2 linked regions of the Homo sapiens genome follow. The protein of the gene in region 2 interacts with the protein of the main gene of each other region in a pairwise test. Each region holds a gene or a part of one and is shown on either strand. Other genes may lie near its edges. The genes, in order: ARR3 and RNASE6.

Region 1 (3,823 bases), on a different chromosome or scaffold from region 2:
CTTACATTGTGCTAGAGGCCAGGTTGGTATCTTCATGCTTAAGTTTGCCATCCAGTGCCAGGCCCCGTTTCTGGCAGCTGGCAGCCAGGATTGGGGTTACTGCAAAGCTCTGGGAGAAGCTGGAATTAGCAGCTACAGTCTCCCTACAAAAGAAGAACAAGAGAAGAATTTAGGCTGGGCTTGCTGACTAAGCATACTTTTACTCCCAAGAGTATCTTGTACAAGATTATACAAGAACCTACTGGAGTATCCAAGAGAGGTAACATGTTTAACTGAAGACTGGGAGAAATTAGTTCTGGTGGGAAATCCTTATGCCCCTGCCCTCGCTCAGCATCGTGATGGGACTCCTGGGGGTAAGTTGCATCCCCTCCATCTAGTTCTCCTGGGAATCCCTCCCTGGAATCTTCCACCACTCTTCTCCCCCACTCTACCCCCTCAACTGCCTCCTGGACCTCTTCCCACCACCCCACCCCTTGGCTCTCTGGTCCTAGCCCCAGCACCAGCTCACGTGAATTCCTGAATGAACACAGTCTTGGTGTACTTGTCTAGTGAATACAGGACAACATCTGTGATCTGGTCAACTGAACAAGCCAGGAAAAGCACATGATTATAATCAGTCAGTCATCCTTGAGACCCCAGCTCAGTGTCCTTAGATGTGACCTTATACATAGGCACACTATACATGATGCAGTGAGACATGCTCATTGACAAAACAAGATATGCATTTTGACAAGCCCATGTTAGAGGGAAAGCCTAGATGAATGCAGACAGGTAAGTGAGATAGAATTTTGGGAAAAGACCTGTGGCTTTGGGACCAGGTGCACAGGGATGGGAAAAGAAACTCACCTGAAATCTTGATTTTTTTGATGACCTTGTTGGTGCAGTTGTTGATAGAAACATTGACAGAGATGGGTTCTCCGTGGTAGTGAACCTAAAGCAGGAGCGGGGACCCATGTCAAGGCTGGAGGACGAATACGCAGATGGAGACCTAGAACCCCTGCTTCCTTAGCGCTATTGCCACCCTGGCTCCCATCTCTGCCTGCCCAAGTAGGAAATCAGTGAAGAAAGGGCATCAGAGGGGTTCTGGGGTGGGAGGCAAAAAGTGGGGGTCACAAACCTCCCTGTCCATCCAGGCCTGGAGTTGTAGGGGCTGAGCTGACAGAAGGAAGCGGCGGATGGTCTGGGCTGAGGGGCCAGGGCCTGCCTCCGGTGGTGCAAATTGTACTTTCCGGACAACCAGCCGCACATAGTCTCTGAGCAGAGACCAAGAGATTAGCCAGAGCGTCCTCCTTTCAGACCCACAGACCTCTCCCATGCCACCCCCATAGTCCAATTGTTGCTTAAGAATGGGAGCAGGGGAAGGCCTCCCTCAGAGAACTCCTCTAGTCCCTTAATGTAAGCATGTAGACCAAAGGTTATTAAACTATGGCCCACTGGCCAAATCTGGCCTGATGCCTGTTTTCCTATGGCCCACAAGCTGAGAATGGTTATATTACATTTGTAAATGGTTGAAATAAATCAAAGAACAATGCTATTTTGTGACATGTGGACATTACATGAAATTCAAATTTCAGTGTCCATAAGTAAAGTTCTATTGGACACACAGCCACACTCATTCATTTCTATACTATCTGTGGCTGCGATTGCACTACAACGGCAGAGTTGAGTAGTTGCAACGGAGACTATAGGGCTCAAAAAGCCAAATATTTCTTTTTTTGGCCCATTACAGAAAAGTTTGCTGACCCCTGCCCTAGATCAAAGAAGGTAAGTCAGAGGGGACTCAGAACCGGGTGTCACTGGTGGCGATGAGGCTGTGGAGGTTAGAAGTGGGGCTATTTCTGTCATGAGAGCAGGATCTGTTTCCTGGCAGAGGCTGGAGGCAGGGATTTTTGGGGACAACCAAAGAATACCTCTTGGAGACTGTCTCCTCTGGGTTTTCAGCACAGAAACTCTTCACTTCAAAGTCAATCCCACAGGGCTGTAAAGGGACAAGGGCAAAGAGAGCTCATTTCCAGTGCTGTCCTCCCTTCCTCATGGGCCTATAAGAAAATGCCTGACCTCTTTCCTTAGCTGTCCATTTCTCCAGTCTTGACTGTCCCACTGTTCCTCTTCCCTGGCACTACCTATCCCTCTTTCTTAGAACCCAGTCCTCACCTTTCCTGCATCTTCAGGACCTGGCTGCAGTGTCACAGAACAGGGCAGGTTGGTCACCATCTAGGGGACAAAAAGGAGATCAGAAAAGAAGTAGAAAAGAATACAAACAAATACAAAAGAAATGGGGAACCCTCTCCCTTGTTGTCCTTCTTGAGCTTCCTCTCTTAATCTTCCCTGGAGACCTTGCCTGCCCAGGGCTTGGGGTCAGTACCTGCAGGGTAAAGGGGTAGGCATTGTCCCCTAGCTTGTGCAGTAGTCGCTCCTGTAGGACTGTGAGGGGCCCCTGAGGGCTGCTGGATTCAGCTGGGACCACTTGCAGGGTCTGCACATACAGATCTTTTCGGAACGTCAGACCAATCACTTCCAAGTCATCACGGCCATAGCGAAAGGCACATGTCAACATGACAAACACTGCAGGCATAGGAGGAAGAGAGTGGTCTGTCAGGCCTGAGTGGGAAGGGGAATCTTAACTGGGTCAAGAAGACACAGAGAGGTGATGTAATATGATCGAAGGCTGGCTGGGCGCGGTGGCTCACGCCTGTAATCCCAGCACTTTGGGAGGCCGAGGTGGGTGGATCACGAGGTCAGGAGATAGAAACCACCCTGGCTAACACAGTGAAACCCCATCTCTACTAAAAAAAAAATACAAAGTATTAGCCTGGCTTGGTGGTAGTGGGCGCCTGTAGTCCCAGCTACTTGGGAGGCTGAGGCAGGAGAATGGCGTGAACCCAGGAGGCAGAGCTTGCAGTGAGCCGAGATCGTGTCACTGCCCTCCAGCCTGGGCAACAGAGCAAGACTCTGTCTCAAAAAAAAAAAAAAAAAAAAAAAAAAAAGATTGAAGGCTATGGGCACAAATGAAAAGATTCTTAATACATTTGACTGCAGTAAAATTTATGTTAAAAGTCTTTATAAAGTCTTCTTTATATTCAAAGTCTTTATAAACAAAGAAAAAAATGGAAAGCCTGGGAGAAAATCTTTGCAACACATATAACACACTGAAGTTTAGAGTCCAAAATATATAAGGACTCCCACACATCAACAATAATGCCAGTATAAAACTGTGCAAAGAATGTGAATAGGCCCTTGCAGAAGTGTGCAAAGTGTGTGAAGGAATGGCCAATAACATATGAAAACATGTTTAGTCTCGTGAGTAATCAGATAAATGCAAATTAAAACCACAACGAGATAAGATTTCACACCCATGAGATTGTCAAAAAATTTTAAATGTGACAACACTACGTGTTGATGAAGATGTGGAGCAAAAGGAGTTCTTACATACTGCTGGTGGGAGTATTAATGCAACCAATTTGGAAGACTATTTGGGATTATCCAGTAAAATTAAATCTGCTCGTAGAGTATGAGCTAATAAGTTGACTTTAAAGGAGCTTTTGTTCAGGAGAGATACATATGATAATGGCCGTCGCATCAACGTTTGTCAGAACATAAAACTGGAGATAATCTAAAAATCTATCAACAGGAGAATGGATAAAAAATTTGTGGTATATTCACATAATGGAATACTAAACCAAGGTTAAAATAAATGAGCTAGAACTTCAAAGAATGCCCTATGGTTTGTATGTGGCCTCTCCATAACTCAGGAGTTGAAACTTGATGGTCATTGTGATGGTATTAAGATGGCCATTAAGAGGTGATTAGATCATGGGGCTTC
Region 2 (3,230 bases):
GTATTGTGTTTTAAATATCAAATTGCAATTGTTCATTGCTGGTATATAAGAAAGCAACTGACTTTTGTATATTAACCTTGTATCCTGCAACCTTGCTATAAACAGACATTATGTTTATTCTGCAGACATTTGGAGCCATAAAAGCATGGGGCAAGAGTGTTGTACTATTATATCTTGTTCAAAAAAAGACTAATCTGGAAGTAATATGTAGAATGGATTGGAAGGAGAAAAAAACAAGGCAAGGAGTCCATGTGGGAGGCTTTTATGTGAGCCCTCCATAAGACAATGAGTTTCTGAATAAGGGTGTTGCAGTACCAGTGAAAAGGTAAGAACAGATTCAAGAGGCAAATATCCTAAATTCGGCCTTCTTCTTCAGGCTTACAGGTCTTTTCATACACAATTCTGTCTTTGGGAGGCGCTTAACACTCTCTTCACCTAACTTCTAATTATTCCTCAAAATTCAGTTCAGGTGTTGTGCCCTCCAACAATCCTTCCCCTCTACTATCTTCCCGTAGCCTCCTGCAGTGTCCTCCATCACACTGTAAGTGCTATTTATATTAATATAATCTACTTGTCTATATACTTACCTGCCTGTCTCTAATCTCTTTCATTAAATCATGAGCTCCTGGCAGATCACGAGGTCAGGAGATAGAGACCATCCTGGCTAACACAGTGAAACCCCGTCTCTACTAAAAATACAAAAAAATTAGCTGGGCGTGATGGCAGGCACCTGTAGTCCCAGCTACTCGGGAGGCTGAGGCAGGAGAATGGCATGAACCCAGGAGGTGGAGCTTGCAGTGAGCAAAGATCGCACCACTGCACTCCAGCCTGGGCGACAGAGCAAGACTCCGTCTCAAAAAAAAAAAAAAAAAAAACTCATGAGCTCCTGAATTTGTGTAGCCTAGTACCTGGCCCAATAAGTATATGCATAAATGAATAATGTATTCACTTCTGTTGTAGGAACTTACAACATTACCAAGTATGTGGCAGGCATTATATCATATTTATGTGACATATTTTCTCTTAAGAAACAGGAATCATAAAGCTTCAAAAAAAAACACTGAAGCCTCAGATGAGGCAGGAAGCACTCATTCCATATCAGGAAGTGATCAGTTCCTCAAAACTGTGAGTTTTCAGTCATGTTGTTTCTTTAAGTTGGTTTAGCCTTCCTGTATACATGTGATAATGATACTGTTTTAAAGAACAGGTGTGAAAGTCTAAGAGTTTAATCCAGACTCTGCACAAGAAGTTAATCTGCCAAACCCTAGGATTCTCCTTCTGAAAGCTCAGAATATTTCTTCCCCTTCCCTATACACACAGGGCTCGAAGGGTTAGAGAAGAAAGGCAGACAACAGCTTCTGAGCTTTGGACTAATCACAGCCTCTGTTCTCAGCAGGAGCCCCAACACTGAGACCAGGTAAGAAAGAAAGCCTCAGGGCTGGAGCGAGTAGAGCAGTAAAGACGGCTGGGAGGTAGTGGTCAGATAGAGGGTAAATATTTCAGGAGGGAAGAGGGAAGAAACTTTCTGATATGACAGCCATCAAATGCATGAGTACTTGTGAAAGAAAATGGGATATGCCAATCAAAGGAGAGGTCATATTTCTGTTTCCTGGGCTTCAGGTTCTTCATAGAATTGTGAGACTATGTGAGAAAGAAGATTTTAAAGGGAGCTGTAAAATCTTAAAAGGCAAAATAAAAATCTAAATAGTTATGATTAAAAATTTTGCTCTTATTGCTTCTCCTACTATAACTATCTTCTCTCTTTCTACACAGAAAAGATGGTGCTATGCTTTCCTCTTCTTTTACTGCTGCTGGTTCTATGGGGACCAGTGTGTCCACTTCATGCTTGGCCTAAGCGTCTCACCAAGGCTCACTGGTTTGAAATTCAGCATATACAGCCAAGTCCTCTCCAATGCAACAGGGCAATGAGTGGCATCAACAATTATACCCAGCACTGTAAGCATCAAAATACCTTTCTGCATGACTCTTTCCAGAATGTGGCTGCTGTCTGTGATTTGCTCAGCATTGTCTGCAAAAATCGTCGGCACAACTGCCACCAGAGCTCAAAGCCTGTCAACATGACTGACTGCAGACTCACTTCAGGAAAGTATCCCCAGTGCCGCTATAGTGCTGCTGCCCAGTACAAATTCTTCATTGTTGCCTGTGACCCCCCTCAGAAGAGCGATCCCCCCTACAAGTTGGTTCCTGTACACTTAGATAGTATTCTCTAAGGCATCCACTGCATTTCCTTTCATTTGACATAGCTTCTGTTACAATTGCATCCATGTTTTCTTTTCTTTTGTTGATTTTCTTGTTCCCGTAGAAGAAAGAAGAAAGGTGTTTGGAGAATTCGAGTGCCTAGGATGCCAGACCAGAGTTGAGACAAAAAGAAATAAGATTATTTTCTGCTTTGTAGTTCTGTACTTTTCGAGAGAAGGGAATAGGGAAGACAGCAAAGAAAGATTCAGATTTCTAACCCTGCAACTTTTGCCAAGCTTTATTGCCCTGTGTTCACAGCAATAAAACCACTTCCTGCTGCATTCTAATGAGTGTGTGTTTGAGATCCGCTTTCAAAGCATTGTTGACCGGTACTCAGAGGAACACTGTTTTGACTTTAAGTCCCTAGAAAACTTTTGAGGCCTCCCTGGGGCCCCACTTCCTTGCCCACAAGAAAGGACAGCGTTTGGGACTTTGGAGCATTTCTTCAAACTCTGCTCATGACTTTATATATTCCCCTGGAAACCATTGTCTATGCTTAATTGGAGGTAGTACTGATACCTCAAAGACAGTTGATGATAACTCACACATAGATTCTGTCACTGGCAACTGAAGGATCCTATGTCTTTTCTATTTGTTTCCGTTTTTAATCAGATAATGTTTTAAATATAAGGTGATAGTAGTAGTAATAGGGATAATAATCCATTGTAGTAACCTTAGGGTCAATCCTCCATTATTTATTGAAATGGATAAATAGAAAGCATAGATCAAGAAAAAAGCACTAGGCTTGTCGTGGTGGCTCACGCCTGTAATCCCAGCACTTTAGGAGGCTGAGGCAGGTGGATCGTCTGAGGTCAGGAGTTCAAGACCAGCCTGGCCAACATGGTGAAACGCTATCTCTACTAAAGATACAAAAAAAGTAGCTGGGCGTGGTGGCAGTGCCTGTAATCCCAGCTACTCGGGAGGCTGAGGCAGGAGAATCGCTTGAACCCAGGAGGTAGAAGTTGCAGTGA

What was found.
Region 1: the proteins of RNASE6 (region 2) and ARR3 interact in a two-hybrid assay, tested with the Homo sapiens proteins (one large-scale study listed by BioGRID and IntAct).

What each region holds. Positions count from the first base shown.
Region 1 is NC_000023.11:70,274,824-70,278,646, reverse strand, and holds part of ARR3 (arrestin-C), read right to left. Parts: intron 2,566-3,823; coding exon 2,366-2,565; intron 2,215-2,365; coding exon 2,155-2,214; intron 1,979-2,154; coding exon 1,911-1,978; intron 1,254-1,910; coding exon 1,118-1,253; intron 932-1,117; coding exon 847-931; intron 582-846; coding exon 509-581; intron 144-508; coding exon 6-143; intron 1-5. UniProt on the Homo sapiens protein: May play a role in an as yet undefined retina-specific signal transduction. Could bind to photoactivated-phosphorylated red/green opsins.
Region 2 is NC_000014.9:20,779,922-20,783,151, forward strand, and holds RNASE6 (ribonuclease K6 precursor), read left to right. Parts: upstream 1-1,346; 5' UTR 1,347-1,417; intron 1,418-1,773; 5' UTR 1,774-1,778; coding exon 1,779-2,231; 3' UTR 2,232-2,546; downstream 2,547-3,230. UniProt on the Homo sapiens protein: Ribonuclease which shows a preference for the pyrimidines uridine and cytosine.